Linked DNA regions of Homo sapiens. The protein of the gene in region 1 purifies or fractionates together with the protein of each later gene. This does not show direct contact. Each region holds a gene or a part of one and is shown in the gene's direction. Other genes may lie near its edges.

The links.
Region 2: the proteins of LIMK2 (region 1) and FKBP5 purify together in Homo sapiens (affinity purification with mass spectrometry; 2 studies listed by BioGRID and IntAct, with this or other methods). This does not show direct contact.
Region 3: the proteins of LIMK2 (region 1) and TTC1 purify together in Homo sapiens (affinity purification with mass spectrometry; 4 studies listed by BioGRID and IntAct, with this or other methods). This does not show direct contact.
Region 4: the proteins of LIMK2 (region 1) and UBB purify together in Homo sapiens (affinity purification with mass spectrometry; 2 studies listed by BioGRID and IntAct, with this or other methods). This does not show direct contact.

What each region holds. Positions count from the first base shown.
Region 1 is NC_000022.11:31,207,511-31,215,302, forward strand, and holds the start of LIMK2 (LIM domain kinase 2), read left to right. Parts: upstream 1-4,787; 5' UTR 4,788-4,898; coding exon 4,899-4,914; intron 4,915-7,792. UniProt on the Homo sapiens protein: Serine/threonine-protein kinase that plays an essential role in the regulation of actin filament dynamics. Acts downstream of several Rho family GTPase signal transduction pathways.
Region 2 is NC_000006.12:35,636,916-35,643,915, reverse strand, and holds part of FKBP5 (peptidyl-prolyl cis-trans isomerase FKBP5), read left to right. Parts: intron 1-1,072; 5' UTR 1,073-1,091; coding exon 1,092-1,196; intron 1,197-6,757; coding exon 6,758-6,902; intron 6,903-7,000. UniProt on the Homo sapiens protein: Immunophilin protein with PPIase and co-chaperone activities. Component of unligated steroid receptors heterocomplexes through interaction with heat-shock protein 90 (HSP90).
Region 3 is NC_000005.10:160,012,118-160,019,152, forward strand, and holds part of TTC1 (tetratricopeptide repeat protein 1), read left to right. Parts: intron 1-2,541; exon of another isoform or gene 2,542-6,914; intron 6,915-7,035.
Region 4 is NC_000017.11:16,376,791-16,383,274, forward strand, and holds UBB (polyubiquitin-B precursor), read left to right. Parts: upstream 1-4,300; 5' UTR 4,301-4,394; intron 4,395-4,499; exon of another isoform or gene 4,500-4,889; intron 4,890-5,111; 5' UTR 5,112-5,117; coding exon 5,118-5,807; 3' UTR 5,808-5,950; downstream 5,951-6,484.

The sequences.
Region 1 (7,792 bases):
ACTGTCAGCGTCTCTCCATCTGTTTAGTAACAGGGCAGGTGGGCTGTCAGCCAAGTCCTCTCTCTCGAGCAGAAGGTGTGTCCCTCCCTAAGGTTCCTTAGTAGCAGGGTGTAGTGTGAGATGGAAGATGTTGCTGAGGTTACAAATCTGGCCCAGCCTCAGCCTTCCCAACATGCCAGAGCTACAAGTAATTCCTCTGAAAAGAGCTTTTTTTCTTCCTCTTAGATTTTGATCTAACAGTTATCAAATTGAATAGTACCAAGATACAGTGGGGAATGCAAAGGTGAGGGAACTTCAGGAGCTCATAAGCCCAATGAGAAAAGACCAGGTTTTTTTTTTTTTTTTGAAAGATTTTAATTTTAGGCCAGGCATGGTGGCTTACACCTACAAACCCCAGCACTTTGTGAGGCTGAGGTGGGAGGATCGCTTGAGGCCAAGAGTTTGAGACCAGCCTGGGCAACACAGGGAGACTCCATCTCTACAAAAATAAAAAATATTAGCCAGGCACAGTGGTGCATGCTTGTGGTCCCAGCTACCCGGGAGGGAGGCTGAGGTGGGAAGATCACCTGAGCCTGGGAGGTCAAGGCTGCAGTGAGTTGTGATCATGCTAGTGCATTCCAGCCAGGGCAACAGACCCTTTTAGAAACAGGGTCTTACTCGGGTGCCCTGGCTAGAGTGCAGTGGTGTGATCACAGCTTACTGCAGCCTGGAACTCCCGGTCTCAGTAGGTTCTCCCACCTCAGCCTCCCAAAGTGTTGGAATTACAGGTTTAAGCCACCATGCCCGGCCTTAGGTTTTTGTTTTCGATGGGGAAAAAAAAAAAAAAACAGTAGTAGAACAGGACAATAAAGCCTCCATGTAGCCATAACCCAACTCCAGTAACTATCAACTCAGATCAGTCTTGTTGCATCTATACCTCCCGCACGCTGTTCCTCTCCCACTGTCTGAACTATTCGGAAACAAACCCCAGTCATGTCATTTATTAAGTATTTCGATATGCATCTCAAGTATTTTAAAAACAAGCAAAATATGCCGGGCACGATGGCACACACCTGTGATCCTAGCACTTTGGGAGGGTGAGGCGGGCGGATTGCCAGAGCTCAGGAGTTTGAGACCAACCTGGGCAACATAGTGAAACCCCGTCTCTACTAAAATACAAAAAATTAGCCAGGCGTAGCGGTAGGCGCCTGTAGTCTCAGCAACTCGGGAGACTGAGGCAGGAGAATCGCTTGAACCCGGGAGGCAGAGGTTGCAGTGAGCCGAGATCGCACCAGTGCACTCCAGTCGGGGCGACAGAGCAAGACTCCATCTCAAAAAAAAAAAAAAAGCAAAATACCTTTAAAAAATTTCTTAAAATCATCATATCCAATCACATTGTTCAGATTTCCCTAGTTGTCTCATAACTTGTGTAGTTTCAATTGAGATCCAAATCAGTTTCATACATTGCTATTATTTGTCTCTGAATTTTTTTTTTTTTTTTTTTTGAGACAGAGTTTCACTTGCCGCCCAGACTGGAGTGCAGTGATGCGATCCCAGCTCACTACAGCCCCCGTCTCCCGGGTTCAAGTGATTCTCATGCCTCAGCCTCCTTGGTAGCTGGGACTACAGGCGCCCGCCATCATGCCTGGCTAATTTTTTGTTTTTTTGTGTGTGTGTTTGTGTGACAGAGTCTCGCTCTGTTGCCCAGGCTGAAGTGCAGTGGCGGGATCTCGGCTAACTGCAAGCTCCACCTCCTGGGTTCACACAATTCTCCTGCCTCAGCCTCCCAAGTAGCTGAGACTACAGGTGCCCGCCACCACGCCCGGCTAATTTTTTTTGTATTTTTAGTACAGACGGGGTTTCACCATGTCAGCCAGGATGGTCTCAAGCTCCTGACCTCATGATCCACCCGCCTCAGCCTCCCAAAGTGCTAGGATTACAGGGGTGAGCCACCTTGCCTGGCCTGTCTATGAAATTTTTTCTACTCTGCAGTTTATCTGTTAAAGAAACTAGGTTATTTGTCCTGTTGCATTTCCCACAGCATCATTTTTGCTATTTGCATCATGGAAATGTTATTAAGCTCCTCTTCTCCATGTATTTCCTGTAAGTTGGTTGTTAGATCTAGAAGCTTGACCAGATTCAAGCTTATTATTTTTGTTTTGTAAGACTACGTCATAGGTGATAGTATATACTTGGTGCGTCTTACCTGGAGGCACTTAATGTCTGGTAGTCCTACTTTGTGATGTTACAGATGCCACTATATCATTTAGAGTTGAGAAACAAGACTGCACTCTGGGCAGAGTGGGGCACAAAATTACAGAGAACCTGGAGAGCTGGTTGTTGTAGGAATGGCAGGTGGCGCAAGGCAGGATGTGCTCAGGAAAAAGCAGAGTCCTGGAGTGAAGGGAATAGGGAGACAAGTCCGCAGGGTGAGATGTAGTCAGCTCATGAGGACTGGTTTGGCTTTTATTTTGTAGGCAGTGGGGTGCTGTTGAAGGGTTTTGAACAGAGAGATGACAGGTCCAGAAACATACTTTTGGAAGATTAACACAGTCAGTTTTGGGTAGGATGATTCAGGGAGGGCAGAGACTGGCTCAGTTTGAAGCAAGTGGAAGTGACACTGGGCAAGTCTGGTTGGGTACCAGTGGACCAGTACCTTCAAGAGGGCAGAACCTTGAGTTGTTTTTCAAGGTCCAGGTTTCAGGATCCTAGGCTCAGAGAGTTGACTGTGAGGCGGCTGGCAGGATCTGGCCCTAGGGACTGACCAAGCTATGGCCAGTGAAACAAACTGTGGACAGGTAACCTGGGTGCTATTGAAACTCAGTTGGTCTACTCCCTGCCCAGGCTTTCTCTACCCTCCAGAAGTCCCCCTTGAGTTCACAAGTGATTTCTGGAATGTTCTTTGGGTCCATATTAAAAATATATCTCTTGGCTATAGCATTTCTATAGAAAGCTATTCCCTTCCATTACATTTTCAACTTGTGTTTCTCAGAGTCGCCTGAACTTCCCTGGGAGGAACTTGGGGGACTTGGCTATTCCCCAGCTCCCTGCTGGTGAAGACCATGAGGCTGGAGGTAGGAGGAAGTGGAATGTGAGAGAGAATGAGGAGGGAGAAGAGATAGACCTGGGTGCCTTGGTGTGGAACGGAGGGAGAGGGAAGACACCCAGGAGGTTTTGGTTCCCAGGATGCCAGTGCTTTGTTGCCTGGGAAAATACAGTGTTACATCTTTCTGTAGGAAGGATGGGGAAAGTCCCTGTCCCCTGTTTGCTAGCCATGAGGCAGCTTGTCAGGAGAGTCTCTGGATTCCTGTCACTTTAATTCAATACACAATCTTGTGTTTACTATAATGATTTCCTCAGAAACTACAAAACTGAGTACTGAAAAGAGTTCCCAGGAATTAACGGAAATGGGACAGAGCCCTCCTCCCCAGCACTTTGTGCACACTCAGGACATCGTGAGCCACCTGCCACACCCAGAAGAGAAAAATCTGACCGGCATCCGGTTTGAATTAGAGCAGGAAGGAAGAGAATTGTGCTCGCCTTTGTCTTTGCCTTTGCCTTTGCTTACCCAACTGCTGGGACCAGAGGCAGCTGGGTTGAACTTTGTCTTTGGTCAGGGGTGGGGGTGGAGGGGACAGAATCCATTTCCCTGGGCTCCATCCTCTTTCTGGTCATTTGGACATGTTTCCTGTGATCTAAATCTGATGTAAGGAAATGACAATTGTGAAAGACCCAGCGTGAGAGAATCTGATGGGAGGGTGGGTCATCAGGGACCAGCTGGCCTGGCTGATGATGTATTAATATCTTAATCACACAGAGGACCCCAATCTCCTTCCAAACCTAATGAGCGGAAGTGGTTCTCAAAGCTACTCAGCCAGCTAGCAGCTGCCATAACCCAGTCAGCTGTCCTAACTCTTAGTCCTGTAATCCCTCCTCCTCATAGAAGATTGTAAACTGGCAGCCCACAGGGCAAATCTAGTGGCCAGGTGTGTTTCATTTGGTCTACATGGCATTTTAAGAACTTTTTGATGCTATCAACATTTTTTAAAAGTGGCAAATTTCACCTAAATATCTGGATTTTTGGCATGTTTTGAAAGGTTGGAAGACCTGGGAATGGTAGGCCCATGTTCCTGCAGGGGAGTGCTCGTCTTCCAATGCGGCGCACAAGCTCCAGCGTCCTGCGCTAAACCTAATTGGCCTGGCTGAGGATCTGCTCCTGGAATGCTGGTTGGTCGCCTCCAACTGTCTTTGACTTAGAGATTATTTACTGTCAGCTTACTCATAGTGGCGCAGAGAAGTGGTTTCTCTGAGCTAGAAGCTTCTAAGAAAAGTCCATCCTCAAAGCTGTTTGTGGGATAGACCTGGCTCCTCCATTGTAATATTCCTGATTCCAAACACTACTGGAAAGAGCTCTGAACTGGCAGTTAGCAGGCCTGGGCTCCCATCCCGGCTCTCCTCCTAATGAGCGAAGCCATTTCAATGTAGTCGAACTTAGCCTCTGATCCTTAACTTTCCCTATCTGTAAATGAGGGCGACTAGATGGGTGCGGACTGTCATCCGTGTTGAGACTTCCGGCCCCCGCAGAATCAACCTTACCGGCGGGAGCACCTCGAGGGGACGCCGCTCGCACTAGGGGGCGCCAGGGCCGCTGCAGAGCCCGAGCCAGAGCCAGGGGGCGGGGCCGCGTCTCGGGAGCGAGGCCTGAGAGCGGCGGGGCGGGGCGTCGGCGGGCAGTCCCCTGTGCCAGGTGTGGTTTGGTCCTCCCAGGGCGCCGTAGGCGGTGCATCCCGTTCGCGCCTGGGGCTGTGGTCTTCCCGCGCCTGAGGCGGCGGCGGCAGGAGCTGAGGGGAGTTGTAGGGAACTGAGGGGAGCTGCTGTGTCCCCCGCCTCCTCCTCCCCATTTCCGCGCTCCCGGGACCATGTCCGCGCTGGCGGGTAAGGAAGGGCTGCTCCGCCCTGTCCCGCTGTTATCTCCGAAGTCCGGTTCCATGGCGCCTGAGGGAAACCGGCTGTCTCTCGGGGGTTTCGGGCTGGTTGGGTCCTCGTGGGTCCGAGCTCCTCAGAAAAGCTGGGAGGCGGGGTGGGCACAGCGCTCCCCAGGCATTTGGAGGGTGGGACTCCGGGAATGGGGAGGCAGGGCATCCTGGAGACAGAGGGCTCCGAGGGGCAGGCGGGTTGGGAGGCTTCCCGCGAGTTGAGGTCCCGGGGAGGAAGAGATTCTGGGTCTGCCAGGAATCCAGCTTTTTGGAGGGACCTGGCGGCCGCAGACCCCCAAATTAACCCTTTTTAAGGAAGTTGAAAAGCATGGGGTTCTCTTATAGTGGAAGCTCTGTGGAATTTGAGGAGTACAGGATCCTCTAGGGTTCAGGACAATTAGGAGAGTTACCCCGGGTTCTGGGTTTTCTGAGGGAAATGGAGGATGTGACTTCCCTGCCAAGACCCAAGGCTTCTCGCGGGCATCTTGGTGTCTGGGAGTCCCCCGGGGCTGGGAGCTCTTTGCAGAAAATAAGGGAGTATGGAGCCCCTTGAGGTTTAGGACAGGACTAAGGGTAAGGAGAGATCGGACCATTCTTTTTGGGGCCCAAAGATCTCTGCTACAGGTGGCGAAAGTAGGCCACCTGGGGTTCTGAGTCCTCCTGTGGAAGCTCCCTTGGCCTCTCTAGACTAAAGACTAGAGGGATTCGGCCAAACACCTCCTGGAAGGAAGAGTTGTCTAAGGGTGAAGGGTAGCTTCAGAGTTGGGTTAGTTGCACCTGCAGTCACCTCCCCGCCACCTCACACACCACCCTGCAGCTTCCTGCCTTCCCCATCTTTTCCCCCAGCAGTAGGAACCTTCTGTCTCCTATGTTTCCCAGCCACCTGTGTGGGTGGCCCACCTCTGGGTCCACCAGGGTCAGCGTCCAGAAGCTTTGGAGAGGCGGCAAGAGGGTATTGAGGTGGAGGGGGGCTGGCTATCTGCCCCCTGCTTCCTGGCTTTCCGTCTGTGGACAGTCACTTCCTTCATCTTGAATGCAAGGACTGGGCTACCAGTGGGTCACTTCCTCAGCAAGGGAGCATGGGATTTTCTCTTCACTGGTGATAACAGACTTCTGGAGAGAGCTAGGGGTGGAAATGCCTAAAACAAATTTTTTTAGGCTGGGCGTGGTGGCTCATGCCTGTAATCCCAGCACTTTGGGAGGGCAGGGCAGGAGGATCGCTTGAGTCCAGGAGTTTGAGACCAGCTTGGGCAATATAGCGAGACTTCATCTCTTAAAAACAAAACCTTGTCTCTTAAAAAAGATTTTTTTTAAGCTTACAGAGTCCTTCAACTCGAATGATTTCCAGTAACTTTTTTTTTTTTTTCTTAGATGGAGTCTTGCTCTGTCGCCCAGGCTGGGGTGCAGTGGCACAATCTTGGCTCATTGCAACCTCTGCCTCCCGGGTTCAAGCGATTCTCCTACCTCAGCCTCCCGAGTAGCTGGGACAACAGGGGCCCGCCACCACGCCCGGCTAATTTTTTTGGTATATTTAGTAGAGATGGGGTTTCACCATATTGGCCAGGCTGGTCTTGAACTCCTGACCTTGTGATCCGCCCGCTTCGGCCTCCCAAAGTGCTGGGATTACAGGCGTGAGCCACCGCACCCGGCCGATTTCCAGTAACTTTTTCTAACAGCTGTGTAATATAGGTTGCCTGTCTTGAACCCTGTTTCTTAGAAAATTGTGAAAGGTTTCACAGTACAATAGTCTAGAGGCATAAAGCCTCTAGATGCATTAGTTTATGCATTCTTTCTTTCATTCAAAGAATATTTGTTGGATTCTTCTGTGTCATATACTTAGCCAAATGCTGAGTACAGTGGTGACATAGTTCTTGGCTTTGTGGTGCTTAATAATCCTAGAGATGGACAATAAATAATTGTAACAATTGCAATAAATGCTATAATAGTTAAGGTAAACAATTGAGATAAGTGCTGTAAGAGTGCACCAGGGGTGAGGGTTTTCTCTACTTTTTTTTCTGTTTTGGTAGAGACAGGGTCTCACTATGTTGCCCACGGTGGTTTCAAGCCATCCTCCTGTCTCAACCTCCCAAAGTGCTGGGATTACAGGCATGAACCACCATGCCCATCCTCTACTTTTTTTTTTTTTGAAGGGAATACTTTTCTTAAAAATGCAAGTTTATGCTGACCCCTGGAGATAAGTAAAAGTTAGCCTGGCAAAAAAAGCTCACAGAGCATTCCAGGCAGAGGAAACAGCATAAAAAGGCCCTAGGGTAGGAAGGCATGTAGTGCCTTTGAGCCTTGGAGCTGGGAGGTCAATATGGTTTTTTGATTTTTTTGTAGGGGGTGGGGAGGAAGAGTCTTGCTCTGTTGCCCATGCTGGAGTACAGTGGCGCGATCCAGACTCACTGTACCCTCCACCTCCCAGGTTCAAGTGAATCTTCTGCCTCAGCTTCCTGAGTAGCTGGGACTACAGGCAAGTGCTACCACGCCCAGCTAATTTTTTGTATTTTTATTAGAGACGGGGTCTTACCATGTTGCCCAGGCTGGTCTCAAACTCCTGAGCTCAGGCAGTCCACCCGCCTTGGACTCCCAAAATGCTAGGATTATAGGCGTGAGCCACCATGCCCAGCCAAGTATGGCTTTTTTATAGATGAGGAGACAGGCCCAGAAATGACAAGGTTCCATAGCTAAATGAGCAGTGGTGGTCAGAGTTCATATTTTCCAACTTCAAGTTTAGTGCTTCCTCCTCTCTGTAGCACAAAAAGCAGAATGAAGTTGACTATGGAGTCTGAGAAGGAAGTGGGACTTAAACTTTCACTTGTTATTCCATTCAAACC
Region 2 (7,000 bases), on another chromosome or scaffold:
CAAAGGTAGAGGCATTCTAGGGAATCTAAATATGAACAAAGCATGGACCTTGCTCTGAAGGATCTTTTAAACCTAACAGGCGCATAGTCTTATGAATCTCTTACAGACAACAAATCGAGAGAAGAGCTAAGGAAGTACGTAAAAGGGCAAAATGGCCTACAAATAGAGGGTCAAGGTTGGTATGACAGAAGTAGGATTTGAGAGAGGTGGATGTTTTGGAAACAAGAAAGGGAGTGACCAGAAGAATGACTATGGGAAAGCACTGGGTTTGTTGTAGAGGTGGAATTGGCCTAGTTTGGCTGGAGCATGAGCTGCATGAAAGAAAGTAAAATAAAATAATGGCAGCTAGAACTCAAAGATAGATTAGGGCCAGATTGTGAAGGGCCTTGAATGCCACATGGAAGAACATTCTGTAGGTATTTTGGGCAGGAGATGAAAAATGACCCTACAGAAGGCCCAATAATGATGATAAATGGTTAAATATGTTTAAGTTACCAATCTATGCTAATCTTTTAAGAAATGTTATCTCACTGTAACTATGAATAGTGTACTGTGTCCATTTTGCAGATGAAAAATGAAGGCTCAGCAAGATTAAGGAAACTGGAAATGTCAAGAGCTGCAGCTAGGACCCAGACTTGGGTCTGTTGGATTCTAAATCCTGTTCTGTGTCTCACTGTGATTGATATATTGTCACTTCTTTTATTAAGAACTGATAAGGTCTTAATCCTCTGTCAAGAATATGGCTGTAGAAAAAGGATGTTTTCAAAGTTGTGAAGGGACTGCTTCTCACCATGTTATGTTAAGGAATGTAATCACTACCCAACTTGACTTGTACTGTTCTCTGTTTTGAGACCAGAGCTAGATGGGAAATTAAAGAATTGGATGATGTTTTATTTACATGCCTGATGACATCAATACATGCTCATAGCAAATGCCTTTGTTTTCATTTTCAGTATCTAAGCTTATTGGCCCTAAGTAAATCTTAGGTTAGGTAGAGCTCAGTTCCCAGGGACATTCAAGATTCATAAAGAAGTGATATTTTTCCCAGCTAAAATATTTTTCTTCTTACCAGGTTCTCTACTTAAAAGACAATGACTACTGATGAAGGTGCCAAGAACAATGAAGAAAGCCCCACAGCCACTGTTGCTGAGCAGGGAGAGGATATTACCTCCAAAAAAGACAGGGGAGTATTAAAGGTGAGGCCACAAAGCTGAGTGACATACAAGGAAACCTGCTGTCTGGAAAGATTATAGCATCTCTTTCTGAGGGGGGCTGGGGTGGATAATGTTTATTGATGGTTACTAAGTGCCAAACACTAGAGCTAGATTCTCATTTTGTCTTCATAACTTCAAGGTTTTTTTTAAGAGTTGAGTCTCGTTATGTTGCCCAGGCTGGTCTTGAGCTCCTGGGTTCAAGTGATCTTCCCATCTCAGCTTCCTGAGTAGCTGGGATTTTCTTTTTAAATTAATTAATTAAATTTTTGAGAGAGGGCATCTCATTATGTTGCTCAGGCAAGTCTTGAAATCCTGGCCTCAAGCAATCCTCCCACCTCAGCCTTCTGAGTAGCTGGGATTATAGGCACGAGCCACTGTGCCCAGCTAGAGATTTTAATTTTTAATCCCAGATTATAGATGTTGAAATTGAGACTGGGCTAGGTAAATTAACTTGCCTAATATCATATATCTTAGTAATGCAGATTTACCTGGGGTTCAGGTCCAAGTTATATCTCACTCTAAAGGGCTATATTTCCCTATTCTCAGAGTATACAAATAGGTTACTATTTTAATGTATCCTTTTAGTACACTAAAGCTAGCTAATGACAATTTTGAAGACTTTTTAAGGAAAGAAAAGCTAACTTGAAAAATTCAAAGGGGTTTTATTTTATTTTATTTTATTTTATTTTATTTTATTTTATTTTATTTTGAGACAGAGTCTCCCTCTGTTGCCTGGGCTAGAGTGCAGTGGTATGATCTCAGCTCACTGCAACCTCCGCCTCCTGGATTCAAGCAATTCTGCCTCAGCCTCCCGAGTAGCTGGGATTACAGGCGCCTGCTACCATGCCTCGCTAATTTTTGTAGAGACAGGGTTTCACCATGTTGGCCAGGCTGGTCTTGAACTCCTGACCTCAGGTGATCCGCCTGCCTTGGCCTCGCAAAGTGTTGGGATTACAGGCATGAGCCACCGTGCCCGGCCCAAAGGGGTTTATTTTTATATATAAATATTGTTCCTGTGTACAGTGAAGATATCTTTTGCGATTTCCTCTTAGAATATATCTTACTTTTGAATTAGCTTTCCTACTTATTAAAGCACTATACAGTCATTCACCATATAATGACATTTCAGTCAGTGACAGACTGCACCTTCAGCAGTGGTCCCATAAGATTATAATGGGGCCGAAAAGTTCCTATGGCCTAGTGGTGCCATAGCTGTTGTAGCATGGGTAGTACAGTGTATTATGTGTTTGTGGTGATGTGGGTGTAAACAAACCTACTGCACTGCAGTCACAGTTATGTATAGTACATAATACTTGATAATAAATGTTTATATTACTGGTTTATGTGTTTACTATACTTTCTATCATTATTTTAGAGTGTGCTTCTTATTTTTTAAAAAGTTAACTGTAAAACACCCTTGGCTGAGTGCAGTGGCTCATGCCTGTAATCCCAGCACCCTGGGAGGCCAAAGCAAGAGGATCACTTGAGGCCAGGAGTTCAAGACCAGCCTGGGCAACATAGTAAGACCCCTATCTGTAGAAAAAAAATTAAAAAAATTAGCCAGGCATAGTGGCATGTACCTGTAGTTTCTACTACTCAGGAGACTGAGGCAGGAGGATCATGTAAGCCTGGGAGTTCCAAGCTGCAGTGAACTATGATCATACCACTGCATTCTAGCCTGGGTGAGAGTGAGATCCTGTCTCAAAAACAAATGAACAAACAAAAAACAGCCTTGGGCAGGTCCCTCAGGAGGTATTCAAGAAGAAGGCATTGTTATTATAGGAGACAGCAGCTCCATGCATGTTACTGTCCTGAAGACCTTCCAGTGGGACAAGATGTGTTGGTGGAAGACAGTGATACTGATGATCCTGACCCTCTGTAGGCCTAGGTTTATGTATGTGTTTGTGTCTTAGTTTTAAACAAAAAAAAGTTTAAAAAGTAAAAGAATAAAAAATTTAAAAAACAGAAAAATGCTTATAGAATAAGGATATAAAGAAAGAAAATATTTTTGTACAGCTGTACAGTGTTTGTGTTCTAAGTGTCATTACAAGAGTCAAAGCTAAAAAAAAAGTTTACACAGTAAAAATGTTATAGTAAGCTAAGATTGATTTATTATTAAAGAAAGAAGAAAAATTTTAAAATAAATGTAGTCTAGGTGTCCAGTGTTTATAAAGTCTACGGTAGTGTATGGTAATATCCTAGGCCTTCATGTTCACTCACTGCTCACTCGCTGACTCATCCAGAACAACTTCCAGTCCTGCAAGTTCCATTCATGGTAAGTGTTCTGTATAGGTGTACCATTTTTTTTCTTGTATACCTTTTATTACTGTACCTTTTTCTATGTTGAGATATGCTTAGATACACAAATACCACTGTTTTACAATTGCCTGCAGTATTCAGTGCAGTAACACAATGTACAGGTTTGTAGCCTTGGAGCAGTAGGCCAAACCACCTAACGTGGGTGTGTACAAGTAGGCCAGGCCATCTAGGTTTGTGTAAGTACACTCTGCGATGTTCACATAAGGATGAAATCATCTAAGAACACATTTCTCAGAACATATCCCTGTCCTTAAGCGATGCATGACTGTGTGTGTTTCTTCACTCTATAGTTAATCATTTTCACGTGCATTTCTTTTGTTTTGTTTCTTACAACAATGTGGTGAGACAATCAGAGCATCTCTTGATTCTTCCATCTTATAAGTGAATAAACTGAATCTGAGAAAGGTTAAGTGGCTTTAGTCACATTAAATAGTTATTTCTCCTACACCATTGTTAACACATGTAAGTTTTGTATAGTTAAGTTTTGTTTTTCCTGAAAAGATTATCTGATGCATTCTGAATATTACCAGGATGCTGAGTTTTAATATCTCTTGTGCCAGCAGTAGCAAGTAAGAATTTTTGTTTTGTATAACTTTGCTTATGTGAAAGCCTTCTGTGCCTGGATCTCTTCTGAATATATGTGAATTGCTATTATGTGCTAAGTCAAATTTTGGGGACTTGCAGCTATAGAATAAGGGCTTTATGCTATAGATTTACATCCTATTGTCTTTTTTTAGAAGGCTTCTCAACCTTGTAGCTATAGTTACTCATCCTAAATTCCAGGAAGCTTCTAGAAACAGTGGAGACTTTGCAGGCTGTCCTCAGCATCTCCCTGCCTCTGTTTACGACTTACCCTTTCATCTTTTCAGAGTGCCCATGCCCAGAGAACATGATCCCCAACTTGCCTCAGACCCTGTTCTGTTCTAGGGAGTAAATCTAATTGCAAGATTTTTAGGCTTATTAAGAAACATTTGAGATTTGAAGCCCTTTAAATTATATCATTTATCATTGTCTAGAGCCTCGGATTTCACCATGAGGCTTTTGGTTAAGATTTAAATAGGTCTAGTAACTGTGCAAGCTAGGGCAATTTAGTTAACCTCTCTGTGATTAAGTTCCTGTTTGTAAAATTAGAATAATAATGCCATCAACCTCATAGAGTTATTAGGATTAGGTGAAGCACTTAGCATAGTGCCTGTCCTATAGTAATCTATCTTATTAACTATTACGTATTTTTAAAAAAAGAACCAGTGCTGGTTTGGAAATTCAGTAACTATCTGAGGAAGATAAAAGATGGATTTATATTTTAAAAATGAATAGAACCTAGATTGTGTTCTTAAGGCAACTCTAGATTTAGGTACAAATTCATCTTGCTAGGGAAGCCTGAAGTGATACCATAGTACCACTTGCTGGTGTGGATGGCTCTCTGACTCTCTGGTAGCCATTCATCCCACATGCCCAGTTACTGTTTATAGTCCTAGAAATGCAGATTCCTTCCACGTGAGGCTTACAGTTGAGCATAGCCTCCCAAATACCACATGCAGTTCGTGAACATGAGCACTTGTAGAATATTGTGTAATATCTTTTAGATTAATGTTTTGAGACTTTTTTTTTCTTTTGAAGTCCTAGAAGGGCAGTAGTGTTTCTTTGCCTTTAAAGAATATTTGGGGCTGGGTGCGATAGCTTATACCAGTAATCTCAGCACTTTAGGAGGCTGAGGCGGGAGAATCATTGGAACTCAGGAGTTCCAAACCAGCCTGGGCAATGTAGCAAGATCTCATCTCTACTAAAAATAAAAAAATTTGCCAGGCGTGGTGGCATGTGCCTGTAGTCTCTGCTACTCGGGAGGCTGAGGTGGGATGATCACTTGAGCTGAGTGATAGAGGCTACAGTGAGCTATGATTGTACCACCGCATGCACTCTAGCCTGGGTAAAAGAGCAAGACCCTGTCTCAAAAAATAAAATAAAGATGTTTGGGCTTTTGAGTTAAGAAAGCTGTGGAATTTAAGTTCACAGTGTTTATGTGATATTTATGTTAGGTGGACGGTATACTTGTAAAAAAAGAATTTAGGAGCAAATAATCGAATTATTTAAATAAAACTCAAAGCAAACTCCTTCCCCAAAAAGATGTTCATCAGATGTTAGCTACCATCCTCTGTTATCTACCAAAAATGATTAATTTGGCATAGATTACAAATTAACAAATTACACCATCACACACCTGGGTTTGATTTTCTTTTCCCAGAACTGACCAAATACATTAGCAGCTTGCTCTGCCAAGAACAAAATAAATACACTGGATTTTACAGTAGTTAAATACTTTACTAGAAAACAAGTTATTCAGTATCATATCAAGCAGTGCAATGATACTCATGTTTTTTACAGATAGACTATGTTTCAAATAATAGGAAATGTAACCTGTTTTACCAGGAAATTGGGCTTTCTGAAAATAAACAAGCAGAATCTAGTCAGGAGCTAATGTTTTTAGCAAAGGAGGGAAATAAAATTACACCTTTGAAGCTTTGCTTAAGCTTCTTTTTGAATATTTTAAAAGTCCACCATTCTTTCTGGTCTAAGTCCGTGTGTATATGGACTAGCTCACAAGCCTGTGTTAGAGAGTTTAGTGTCGGGCGCGGTGGCTCATGCTTGTAATCCCAGCACTTTGGGAGGCTGAGGCGGGTGGATCACGAGGTCAGGAGTTCGAGACCAGCCTGGCCAACATGGTGAAACCCCATCTCTACTAAAAATACAAAAATTAGCTGAGCACGGAGGCGCACGCCTGTAATCCCAGCTACTCGGGAGGCTGAGGCAGGAGAATTGCTTCAACCTGGGAGGCAGAGGTTGCAGTGAGCCGAGATCGTGCCATTGCACTCCAGCCTGGGCGACAGGGCAAGACTCCGTCTCAAAAAAAAAAAAAAAAAAAAAAAAGAGTTTACTGTCAAAATATAGGGCATTAAACCAATGAACAGGATTTATTGGTTAATTCTTTGAAGGAATAAATAGTGCGATTAGCAATAAAAGTAGATATAACATAAAAGACAAGTTGGTAAAGGACAGTTTTCTAACAATGAGTTATTGTGAGGAATGAAGGGAGGCATTAGAAAGAATGGATAATAGTATATTTGCATATCTGCCTGGATGTCTTGGGATGGACTGTGTGACCTTTTTATTCTCTGATTACAAGTAAAAAGTTTGACCTCCTTTTTCTTAATGTTTGTCTTTTCTAGATTGTCAAAAGAGTGGGGAATGGTGAGGAAACGCCGATGATTGGAGACAAAGTTTATGTCCATTACAAAGGAAAATTGTCAAATGGAAAGAAGTTTGATTCCAGTCATGATAGAAATGAACCATTTGTCTTTAGTCTTGGCAAAGGTAAGAGGGTATTTTTTTGAGTTGTGTTTTACTTAGCTTTATTACTATTTGTAATATATAGGAGCAGAGGATTCTATCCTTTCTAAAAGTAAAGAAAT
Region 3 (7,035 bases), on another chromosome or scaffold:
TATAACAGGTTTCAGGCTTTTTAGAAACACTGATTATGCATCTATGTTAAAAAGTTAGTAGTGCTTTTCTGATACCTTAATATATTTTGCCCTGAAATTATATTAATTTTCTAGTGCCCTCTGGATTTGACAGTTGAATGGTTTGGCTCAAGGTGTCACAAAGTCTGATCCCTACCTCTAATTTAGTAAAACTTTTTTTGTGTCTCCTAGGCCAGAAAATCATACTTTAAGTTCTATAAATACTTTTATGATTTTTTTTTTTTTTAAGACAGGATCTCACTGTGTCATCCAGGCTGGAGTGCAGTGATGTGATCACGGCTCACTGCAGTTTCAACCTCCTGGGCTCAAGTGGATCCTCCCACCTCAGCCTCCTGAGCACCTGGGACAACAGGCTTGCACCACCCTGCCTGGCTAATTTTTGTGGGTTTTTTGGTAGAGACAGTGTCTCACCATGTTGCCAAGGCTGGTCTCCAACTCCTGGGCTCAAGCAGTCCTCCCACTTTGGCCTCCCAAAGTGCTGGGATTACAGGCGTGAACCACCACACCCAGTGAGGATAATTATTTTTATTGCCTGTAAGTTTAATATTCTAAGTAGAACAATACTTTTTTTCACTTTTTTCCTCCTTTTAAAAATTGAGATATAATTTAGTGAAACTGTATATCAGTTCTCATGTGTAGAATGCAGTGAGTTTGACAATTGTATACACCTGCATAGTTCACGTTTCTATCAAGATAGAGAACATTTCCATCATGTCAGAAACTCCATTTGTGTGCTTTATCAGTCATTCCTTTCCCAACCCTGCCAGTCTCTGGTTAACCACTCTTCTGATTCCTGTCCCATAGGTGGTTTTTTCCTGTTCCAGACATTCATATAAACATAATCATACAGTAGTATTCATGTTTAAAACATAAATATTTTCTATTCATTTATATATCAGTCTAAGTGTTTTCATAGCTAATTTGAAAATTTGTAAGAATATCTCATAACAGTAACATACTGCAGTGCTAGTCTTATTATTTAGAGAAATGTAAGCCACTGACTCTACTTTAAGGAAACAACCTATAAGAGTGCAGATTGCCTTCAGCTAACTGTGGTACTACTCTTATTAGGTGTTTGTATGCTATTTTGATAAATATCTTTCCAAAATTTTCAAGAAGCCAGCGAAACAGATTGAAGAAATGTCTTCTACATATATGGTTTGGCTTTAATAGCTCATCAGAAACAGGATAGTGTTATATTTGAATCTTTTAAAATAAAGTTCAGATAGTTCAACAATGACTAAAAAAAAAAAATGGCCAAAAAATGTGAAAAGACTCAGCCTCATTAATAATGATGAAAAGTACAGGCTGGGCGTGGTGGCTCATGCCTGTAATCCTAGCACTTTGGGAGGCTGAGGCGGGCGGATCATGAGGTCAGGAATTCGAGACCAGCCTGACCAACATGATGGAACCCCATCTCTACTAAAAATACAAAAATTAACTGGACGTGGTGGTGTGCGCCTGTAATCCCAGCTACTTGGGAGGCTGCGGCAGGAGAATCGCTTGAACCTGGGAGATGGAGGTTATAGTGAGCTGAGATCAGGCCTCTGCACTCCAGCCTGGGTGACAGAGCAAGACTCTGTCTCAAAAAAAAAAAAAAAAATACTAACTAAAACATTATGTCTCATCTATCAGATCAGAATATTGATCTGATGTTGACAAGGAGAGGATGTTGGAACTCATATACTAATATTGAGAATTTAAATTGTTATGTCACTTCATGGGATGCAGATACCAAATTTTTATGTGACCATTTCTTTAGATAGGGCTATCAATAGACTCTTCTACAAGGATAGGAATGTTCTACATCCTGCACCATGCAGTATGGTAGCTGCTGACTACATCAGGCTATTGAGCACTTGAAATGTGGCTATTACGGCTGAGGAACTGAATTTTATTGTAATTAATTTAAATAGTCATACGGGATGGCTCACACCTATAATCCCAGCACTCTGGGAGGCTGAGGCAGGCAGATCACCTAAGGTCAGGAGTTCGACCCGAGACCAGCCTGGCCAACATAGTGAAACCCCATCTCTACCAAAAATTAAAAAATTAGCCAGGCCTGGTGGCGGGCTCCTGTAATCGCAACTACTCAGGAGGATGAGGCAGGAGAATTGCTTGAACCCAGGAGGTCGAGGTTGCAGTGAGCCGAGATTGGGCCATTGCACTCCAGCCTGGGAGACAAGAGCAAAACTCCGTCTCAGAAAATAAATAAATAGTCACATGGGCCAGGCATAGTGGCTCATTCCTATAATCCCAGCACTTGGGAGGCTGAGGCTGGAGGATCACTTGAGCCCAGGAGTTTGAGACCAGCCTGGGCAACATAGTGAGACCCTGTCTTTCCAAAAAAAAAAAAATTTTTTTTTAATTAAAATTTTTTAAAAAGCCTTTAAAAATAAAAATAATCACGTGTGGCACAAGCCTGTAGCCCCACCACTCAGGAGGCTGAGGTGGGAGGATCCCTGGAGCCTGGGAAGTCAAGGCTGCAGTGAGCCATGATCACGCCACTGCACCCCAGCCTGTGCAACAGAGTGAGACCTTGTCTCAAAATGAATAAATAAATAATTTTAAAATCGTCACATGTGGCTAGTAAGTACCATATTGGACATGACAGCATTAACGCTGATTCTCTTGTAGCCATTTATTTCAAGGAAATTATTAGAAATATACACAAATGTATATACATAGATGTGTTGCAGCATCATTCATAATTTTGGAAAGCTAGACAATGTTAAACAGGGTATTTGTAGTATAGTAAATTTATTTGGTCTTTGTCCCTGGTTCCTGTTACAGAGCCACTAGAACCCTTGGAATTTTCTGATAGTGTAGTGTATTTTTTTGTTATTCTTAATGTACCCCTTTTGATAACACCTGAGTTCATCCTAATGAGATAACTTTTAGGATCTGGCCTATCTATAGCCTAAGGAAGGATGGGGCCAGTCACCAAAAAGACTAAGTGATTAGAGTTTTAGAGGGTTGGAACTTTTGGCACCACCTACCAAAATCCAGGAAAGGAGGAGGGCAAGTGCTGGAGATTAAGCTCCATTAAAGCTTTTTTCTTCTTGTGTTTTGAGCCAAGTCTCGCTCTGTTGCCCAGGCTGGAGTGCAGAGGTGCGATCATAGTTCACTGGAGGCTTCAACCTCCTGGGCTCAAGCAATCCTCCTACATCAATGTCCCAAGTGGCTGGGACCACAGGCGCCTTCCACCACACCTTGCTAAATTTTTTTGTGTTTGAAATGAAGTCTTACTATGTTGCCCAGGCTGGTCTCGAACTCCTGGACTCAAGCAATATTCCCATCTCAGCTTCCCACAGTGCTAGGATTACAGGTGTGAGCTGCTGCGCCTGGCCTATAAAAACTCTTGAACTAGAAATCTGATGAGCTTCCAGGTTGATGAGCACATGGAAGTGTTAAGAGGGTAGCACCCAGAGAGGGCGTGGCAGCTCTGCACCCCTTCTCCCTCTACCTTTCCCTGTGTGTCTCTTCACCTGGCTGTTCTATATCATTCATAATGTCCTTTGTAATAAACTACTAAGTGTAAGTAAAGTGTTTCCCAGAGTTCTGTGAGCCATTCTAGCAAATTATTGAACCCACAGAGAGGGTGGTAAGAACCCTGTGCTAACCATTCAGTCGGAATCATAGGTCACAACCTGGGACTTGTGATTAGTGTCTGAAGTGGGGCCAGGCTTATGAGACTAAACTCTTAACCTGTGGGATCAGACACTGTCTACCTGGAGATAGTGACAGAACTGAATTGAATTATAGGACACTCCGTTGGTGTCCATTGGAGAATTGTTTAGTGTGGAAAACACTCTCATCTGGTGTCAGACCTATTGGGAGGGTATAGTAGGAGAGAAAAATGTGTTCTTCCCAGAGTATTACTTAAATTTTGTTGTTATATTTATGTAGTATACAATGCAGTTGTTAAAGGTAAATCTTGGCCGGGTGCAGTGGCTCATGCCTATAATCCCAGCACTTTGGGAGGCCAAGGTGGGCAGACCACTCAAGACCAGGAATTCAAGACCAGCCTGGCCAACATGGTGAAACCCCATCTCTACTAAAAATACAAAAATTAGCCAGGTATGGCGGTGCACACCTATAGTCCCAGCTACTTAGAAGGCTGAGGCACGAGAATTGCTTGAACCTAGGAGGCGGAGGTTGCAGAGAGCCGAGATCACGCCACTGCACTCCAGCCTGGGTGACAGAATGAGACTCTGTCTCAATAAATAAATAAATAATTTAAAAAATTTTTTTAAAAAGATGAATCGTAGGTATTGACCTGGGAAGCTGCCTGTAATATAATGTCAAATTAATTAATCAGGTTATACAACAGTGATGATTTCTTTTAAGGCTATGTGAAAATATGTTTATACATACAAATTTGAAGGATATACACCAAAGTATAAGCAGTAAGTAACTTTGAGAGGTATGATTATTAGGGAATTTTAATTTATATGTAATGCAATTTTGTAATATTTGCTTTTTTTTTCAGTAAGCCTGTATTACATTATTCCATTTTAAGAATATAAATAAATAAAAATTGATTACTTTACAACCAAACTGTGTGCCCTACCACAAAAGCACATGAAGCTGACCCCTGATGATTTGGGAAAGAAGTGCTATTCCGTACAGGGTCTATGTAGTATTAAAGGTTTCTTGTTGGACACAACCAAATAATAGTAGCCAAAGTCTGTTAATCAAGCTAACTTCACTTGTCCTGTGGCTGGGAAGATAATTCACGCTCAAGTGTAGTGTCACTTCTCAGCAGGACTCATAAATCAAGAATAATTGAGGAGGAAAGCAGTTAAGATTTGGTAAAAACAGGAAAAGCTCTCAGAGAGTATAGTGTATTCGTGTGTTTATTTCAGCAGTAAATCTTAACTATTTGTGAAAGCTTAAATGTAGATATAACTACCCACAGGAATGGAATTTTAGCTAACATTTGAGATGTACTAGGTATGTGAAGCAAATAACTGGTTCTGAGAGGCTTGGCTAAGGTGAAGGACAAATGTAGCAGCAGAAGAGAATTGCAATAATAACATTATGATACAAAAATTCTATCTTAGTGTGTTGGAGCTGCTATAACAAAATACCTTAGACTGGATAACTTATAAATAATAGAAATTTATTGCTCATAATTCTGGAGGCTGAGAAGTCCAAGATCAAGGTGCCAGCAATTTTAGTGTCTGGTGAGGGCCTCTTCCTTACAGATGGCACCATTTGTGTCCCTACATGGCAGCAGGGGCAGGGCAGCTCCCTTCAACCTCTTTTATTAGGACACTAATCCATTCATGAGGTTGGAACCCTTATGACTTAATCACATCCCAAAAGGACGCACCTCTTAATACCAACACAATGGGGATTATTTCAACATGAATTTTGGAGGGACACATTCAGACCATAGCAAGTGTTTATAGTATTAGGACCTATGGCACATACTGCAGAATGCTAGTATTGATTCCATAAGAAAATCGCCTTTTATGGACTGCTTGTCACAGTGCAGTTTCTTAGGTCTCATGTGTAAATTTCCTAGGTAATTCATATGCACATGCTGAGGCTTGAGGACCACTGTCACAGGTTTTGCACAATCTTCCTTCATTAAATAGCTGTTGAATGAATAGCATCTTTTTCTCCCCCATGAGAGCCAATAATTGGCCTTATAAGTTACAGAAATTTTTTTCTCACATTTATTCAAGTAATATTTACATTTCTTCCACCCACTAGACATTGTTTGAGGCCCTGAGGGATACAGTGGTGAACAAGACAGGGTTTCTGTTCTCTCATTGGAGAATTAGGACAAAATGTTAACATGAAGGATGGGTTGGGTTGGAAGGATGGTGCTATGGTTTGAATGTTTTCCTCCAAAATTCATGTTGAACTTAATCCTCAATGTGTAGTATTAAGAGGTGGAGCCTTTAGAAGGTGATTAGAAGAATTAGTATCCTTATAAAGTATACCAATAAAAGACTTGAGGGAACCTGTTGGGCCCTTCTACTCCCCTTCCACAAAGTGAGGATGCAGAAAGAAGGCACCATATTGAAGCAAAGAACAAGCCCCTTACCAGACGCGAAATCTGCTGGTGCCTTGATCTTGGAATTTCCAGCCCCTAGAGCTGTGCAAAATAAATTTCTATTATTTATAAATTACTGAGTCTGTTATTTTGTTATAGCAACCTGACTAAGACAGGTGGAGAGGACTGCTTTAGATTGGCTGGTCAGGAAAGCCTCTCTGGAGAGGTGGCCTCTCAACAGAGACTTAGGGGAGGGTGGCACTGGGAGCAGCCAAATGTGTGACCGTCTGAGAGGGAAGCATTGCAGACAAAGAGAGCAGTTGAATAAAGCCCTAAAGTAACAACAAGTTTGGTGTTTTGGCATGTTCAAGGAATGGAAGAGCCGATGGCTGAAGCATGATGATTAAGGAAGAGAGTGGGCTGATAGTAGGCAAGGGTCTGATTATGGAATAGTTCCTAAGCCGTAGTAAAGAACTTGAAGTTTTTTCCAAGTGCAGAAGGAAACAGATGGATAATTTTAAGCCAGGGAGAGACGGAAGTTATTTACATTTTAATAAGAGAATTCAGTTCTTATACAGAGAATGGAGGGGTATGAGGATGGAGGAGGGACATGAATAGAACATTTGAGCCCAATTAGGCTCTAATGCAGTAGCCCAGTGAAGATGATAGTAGCTTGAACTGTGGATCTGAAGAGAAGTGTATGATTTTGGGATATATTTCAGAGGTAAAGCAGACCACACATTGCAGTGGATTCGATTGGCGGGATGGAGTGAGACGTTAGAATGATTCCTTGTCTTCAGCTACTGGATGGATGGTGTGGCCTTTATTAATATGAAGAAGATGAAGGAACTTTGAACTTATCCAGGTTCTGGTGATTTAATTCTTTCCTGCAAACAAACATTTTTTATTTGTAAGCCAAAATGCAGATTTAGTCATTTCAATGGGTTTGCTCCCTTTCACTAGTGGTTTGCAAATGGTATTCATTT
Region 4 (6,484 bases), on another chromosome or scaffold:
GCAACCTCCGCCTCCCGGGTTCAAGCGATTCTCCTATCACAGCTTCCCAAGTAGCTGGGATTACAGGCATGCACCACCATGCCTGGCTAATTTTGTATTTTAGTAGAGACAGGGTTTCGCCATGTTGGCCAGGCTGGTTTCGAACCCCTGACCTCAGGTGATCCACCTCCTGTCCTCAGGTGATCTGGCCTCCCAAAGTGCTGAGATTACAGGCTGAGCCACTGTGCCCGGCCAAAAATAAAGGTTTTTAAGTGCTTAAGCAAATCAGGGATTATATGGTATTTGCTATATTACCTCCATCTTTCATGTATTTATGTAATATTTCATGATAAAAATATTGTAGCCAGGCAGAGCAACTTGTGTGTGTAATCCCACCTACTTGGAAGGCTGACACAGGAGGATCGCTTGAGCCCAGGAGTTGGAGGCTGAAGTAAGCTATGATTGCACCACTGCACTCCAGCCTGGGCAATAGATACTCTAAAATAGATAATAAATAAATAAATAAAAATGTTAAAAACATTTAAAGTAGCTATTTTTTGTATGTTTGTATTTGAGATGGAGTCTCACTCTGTTGCCCAGGCTGGAGCGCAGTGGCGTGATCTCAGCTCACTGCAACCTCCACCTCCTGGGTTCAAGGGATTCTCATGCCTCAGCCTCCCAAATAGTTGGGAACACAGGTGTGCGTCACCACACCCGGCTAATTTTTGTATTTTTAGTAGAGATGAGGTTTTGCCATGTTGGCCAGGCTGGTCTTGAACTCCTGGGCTCAAGAGATCCATCTGCCTCACCCTCCCAAAGTGCTGGGATTACAGGCGTGAGCCACTGCAATCTGCCCAAATTAGCTATTTTTTAATGGATAGATTTCTGTACTTTTGAGGCCTAACATGAAAACAGTACAGATTTTGCTCTGTGTTCCTTTGGGCATTCAATATCAAAGTTTCTAACTTGCTTGTAATAAATTAGGAGTTCATTATGTAATTGTATTGAAATAAATAGCCAAATGTGAAATATAAAGGAATTGACAAATCAGAGACTAATTCCACACTTTAAATATCACCAAATAATGTCAAGAAAACAACTGTGAACTTTTAATTGGAACTATAGTTTTCTCACAGATTTTTATTAAAAGGCATCTAGCCAAGTAAAATCACTTAGAATCTCAGAATCAATCCCCCTTTGTTTCTTTTGAAGGAACTGCCAAGGCAAATAGCATTTGCCTATGGAGATGAAATACAGTACTCTACTGTGTTTTTGCTTTGTGTTTTAAGGCTGTCACAAAGTTTCTTTTCTCCAGTTGAACAAAAGAGAAGATTGCATTTTAGTCACTGAACAAACATTTATTGAGCACAGTGCCAAGTATTGTGCCAGATTACCAAATTCCTAATCTTAGGTTACCAAATGACCTACTTCGGGAAAACATTGAACCAGGAGCCTGTATAACTAACTTACAGTTCTGGCAACTGCTAGAACTTCCCAGTGAAGTCATTATACCAGTCATGAGATCTGCCTTCTAGCTCAATCTGCGATCAACATGTATGATTCAGGAGGAGCTGCTGGTTGGTGAAACAAATTCAGAATCACTGTTAGGCTAACAAAAACGAAAATCCATACTTTATATAATAAAATAAACGTTTTATAAACTACCTCCCAAGTCGTTCAAAATCACTTCCAAAATTATCTTAAACTGTTTATTTCTATCTCCTGCTTATTCACATCAGTAGACAGTAGATCCCGGTTTTAGTTAATTTAACTGAAAGCTGTCTAGGTGTTAACTCATATACCAGCTCATTTGTCGACATAGCTTCTCAACGTTATGCTCAGGTATGTTGAAATTTAGTAATTAGCGACCTTTCTAAGAGATGTTTACTTAATTGTATTAATACACACATTTCTAGACTACTTCTTACATTATGAAGGTTGGTATCACGTGAAAAACAGCCAATTTCATGTTTACTTCCACCCCACCCCCGTGACTGTGCCAGGCACCAGGATCCAAACACATCTGCCTTACTCACCTTCCTTGGGTTATCTCCTTGCAGGACGAGTGGCCACACCCAGGGTGTAGGGAAACCCGTTGCTTGGTCCTAGCTGGTTAACCTCACCCTTGCACAACAAGCACGTCAATGGGAGCAGGATCAGCTACTTTCTTGTAGGTGAATTCCCGTTTTTGAAGTGGGGTTTCGGCTCCCTAATCTGCACTTTTTTTTTTCCTACCAGTTTGGAGAAACAGCTGGGAAGAACTGGATTTGCAGGTATTGCTGGAGCCAGAGCGAAGCCCGGCCACTGTCACCATGGGCTCCAGCCTCGCCTCTCTGGGCCTGGTGGTGAGCGGCTTCAGCAACAGGTTTCCGGTCCCCGCAGAGGGTCCCACTCTGAACTCCCGATTTACAGACTGTTCTCGGGCCGTGATGAGGATTAAGACAATGCAACTAAGAGCACTCTGACTACAGAAGCATGATTTAAAGCTCCACAACCCTGCAATAACCACGAAGAAAAATAAAAAGCGGCTAGTCCGCCAGGCACGGTGGTTCATGCCTGTAATCCTAGCACTTTGGGAGCCCGAGGCAGGCGGATCTCCTGAGCCCAAGAGTTCAGTAACAGCCTGGGTAACATAGCAAGACTCTGATCTAACAACAAAAAAAAATTAGACCAGGAACAGTGGCTCACATCTGTAATCCCAGCACTTTGGGAGGCCGAGGCAGGCAGATCACCTGAGGTCAGGAGTTCGAGACCAGCCTGACCAACGTGGTGAAACCCCATCTGTACTAAAAAATACAAAAATTAGCCAGGCATGGTGACACGCACCTGTAATCCCAGCTACTCAGGAAGCTGAGGCAGGAGAATCGCTTGAACCAGGGAGGTGGAGGTTGCAGTGAGCCACATCACGCCACTGGCCTTCAGCCTGGGTGACAGAGTGAGACTCCGTCTCAAAAAATAAATACAAAATTAAAAAGCCAGGCGTGGTCCACGGTCCCAGCCACTTGGGAGGCTGAGGTGGCAGGATAACTTGAGCCCTGGAGGTCAAGGCTGCAGTGAACGGTGATCACACCACTGCACACCAGCCTGGGGACACAGCCAGACTTTGTCACAAAAAAGCAAAAACAACTGGCCAGTGTATGAGGGGCTCGTGTTTTTTGTTTGTCTGTTTGTTGAGACAGAGTCTCACTCTGTCGCCAGACTGGAATGCAGTGGCACATTCTCGGCCCACTGCAATCTCTGCCTCCTAGGTTCAAGCAATTATCTGCCTCAGCCTCCCAAGTAGCTGGGATTACAGGCGCCCGCCACCACGCCCGGCTAATTTTTTTGTATTTTTAGTAGAGACGGGGTTTCACCACCTTGGCCAGGCTGGTCTTGAACCCCTGACCTCATGATCCACCCGCCTCGGCCTCCCAAAGTGCTGGGATTACAGGCGTGAGCCTCCGCGCCCGGCCAGGGGCGCGCGTTTTTAAAACATGGGAGAGGGAATTGTGCTTCACAATCACCATCAGGTGTCTCGATATCGGGTGCCACGCCGTCCCGCTTCTGAGGCGCGGCGGCCCACTTTGGCAGGCCGAGGCGGGTGGATTACCTGAGGTCAGGAGTTCGAGACCAGCCTGACAAACATGGTGAAACCCCCGTCTCTACTAAAAATACAAAAAATTAGCCGGACGTGGTGGCGCATGCCTGTAATCCCAGCTACTTGGGAGGCTGAGGCAGGAGAATCGCTTGAACCCGGGAGGCGGAGGTTGCGATGAGCCGAGATCGCGCCATTGCACTCCAGCCTGGGAAACAAGAGCGAAACTCCGTCTCAAGAAAAAAAAGGAAAGACCCCCCCTCCTTCTCCCGCCGGAAATACCCTCTTTCAGGACGGCGCGCCTGTGCGGCGCACGCGCGCTCAGTTACTTAGCAACCTCGGCGCTAAGCCACCCCAGGTGGAGCCCAGCAACAACAGAGCCACCGCGTCCCCCACCAATCAGCGCCGACCTCGCCTTCGCAGGCCTAACCAATCAGTGCCGGCGCTGCAAGGAAGTTTCCAGAGCTTTCGAGGAAGGTTTCTTCAACTCAAATTCATCCGCCTGATAATTTTCTTATATTTTCCTAAAGAAGGAAGAGAAGCGCATAGAGGAGAAGGGAAATAATTTTTTAGGAGCCTTTCTTACGGCTATGAGGAATTTGGGGCTCAGTTGAAAAGCCTAAACTGCCTCTCGGGAGGTTGGGCGCGGCGAACTACTTTCAGCGGCGCACGGAGACGGCGTCTACGTGAGGGGTGATAAGTGACGCAACACTCGTTGCATAAATTTGCGCTCCGCCAGCCCGGAGCATTTAGGGGCGGTTGGCTTTGTTGGGTGAGCTTGTTTGTGTCCCTGTGGGTGGACGTGGTTGGTGATTGGCAGGATCCTGGTATCCGCTAACAGGTACTGGCCCGCAGCCGTAACGACCTTGGGGGGGTGTGAGAGGGGGGAATGGGTGAGGTCAAGGTGGAGGCTTCTTGGGGTTGGGTGGGCCGCTGAGGGGAGGGCGTGGGGGAGGGGAGGGCGAGGTGACGCGGCGCTGGGCCTTTCCGGGACAGTGGGCCTTGTTGACCTGAGGGGGGCGAGGGCGGTTGGCGCGCGCGCGCGTTGACGGAAACTAACGGACGCCTAACCGATCGGCGATTCTGTCGAGTTTACTTCGCGGGGAAGGCGGAAAAGAGGTAGTTTGTGTGGTTTCTGGAAGCCTTTACTTTGGAATCCCAGTGTGAGAAAGGTGCCCCTTCTTGTGTTTCAATGGGATTTTTATTTCGCGAGTCTTGTGGGTTTGGTTTTGTTTTCAGTTTGCCTAACACCGTGCTTAGGTTTGAGGCAGATTGGAGTTCGGTCGGGGGAGTTTGAATATCCGGAACAGTTAGTGGGGAAAGCTGTGGACGCTTGGTAAGAGAGCGCTCTGGATTTTCCGCTGTTGACGTTGAAACCTTGAATGACGAATTTCGTATTAAGTGACTTAGCCTTGTAAAATTGAGGGGAGGCTTGCGGAATATTAACGTATTTAAGGCATTTTGAAGGAATAGTTGCTAATTTTGAAGAATATTAGGTGTAAAAGCAAGAAATACAATGATCCTGAGGTGACACGCTTATGTTTTACTTTTAAACTAGGTCAAAATGCAGATCTTCGTGAAAACCCTTACCGGCAAGACCATCACCCTTGAGGTGGAGCCCAGTGACACCATCGAAAATGTGAAGGCCAAGATCCAGGATAAGGAAGGCATTCCCCCCGACCAGCAGAGGCTCATCTTTGCAGGCAAGCAGCTGGAAGATGGCCGTACTCTTTCTGACTACAACATCCAGAAGGAGTCGACCCTGCACCTGGTCCTGCGTCTGAGAGGTGGTATGCAGATCTTCGTGAAGACCCTGACCGGCAAGACCATCACCCTGGAAGTGGAGCCCAGTGACACCATCGAAAATGTGAAGGCCAAGATCCAGGATAAAGAAGGCATCCCTCCCGACCAGCAGAGGCTCATCTTTGCAGGCAAGCAGCTGGAAGATGGCCGCACTCTTTCTGACTACAACATCCAGAAGGAGTCGACCCTGCACCTGGTCCTGCGTCTGAGAGGTGGTATGCAGATCTTCGTGAAGACCCTGACCGGCAAGACCATCACTCTGGAGGTGGAGCCCAGTGACACCATCGAAAATGTGAAGGCCAAGATCCAAGATAAAGAAGGCATCCCCCCCGACCAGCAGAGGCTCATCTTTGCAGGCAAGCAGCTGGAAGATGGCCGCACTCTTTCTGACTACAACATCCAGAAAGAGTCGACCCTGCACCTGGTCCTGCGCCTGAGGGGTGGCTGTTAATTCTTCAGTCATGGCATTCGCAGTGCCCAGTGATGGCATTACTCTGCACTATAGCCATTTGCCCCAACTTAAGTTTAGAAATTACAAGTTTCAGTAATAGCTGAACCTGTTCAAAATGTTAATAAAGGTTTCGTTGCATGGTAGCATACTTGGTGTTTTGTCATGAAATTCTCTAGTGATGTGTGGGTACGCTTAAAACTGGTGAAAATGTTTAGGGATTTAATTTTGAGATTGGTAATGTGCTCAAAGTTAAGTCACTTGACTTTGGTATACACTTGGGTGGGCTGAGGGGCAAGAGCCTTCTTTGCTGTTTAAGTCATTACAAGTTAGGATCCTGGGTAAATGGCAAACTTTCTGAAGCTCGAATTTAAAGTCTGTTGGGAGGCCGAGGCAGGCGGATCACGAGGTCAAGATATGGAGACCACCCTGGCCAACATGGTGAAACCTTGTCTCTACTAAAAGAAAAAAATTAGCTGGGCGTCGTGTCGCCTGCCTGTAGTCCCAGCTATTCGGGAGGCTGAGGCAGGAGAATCACTTGAACCTGGGAGGCAGAGGTTGCAGTGAGCCGAGATCGTGCCACTGCACCCCAGCCTGGCGACAGAGCAAGACAACATCTCAAAAAGTTGGATATGCAGGCTTTTTAAAAGATGGTCTTGCTCTGTAGTCCAGACTGGTAT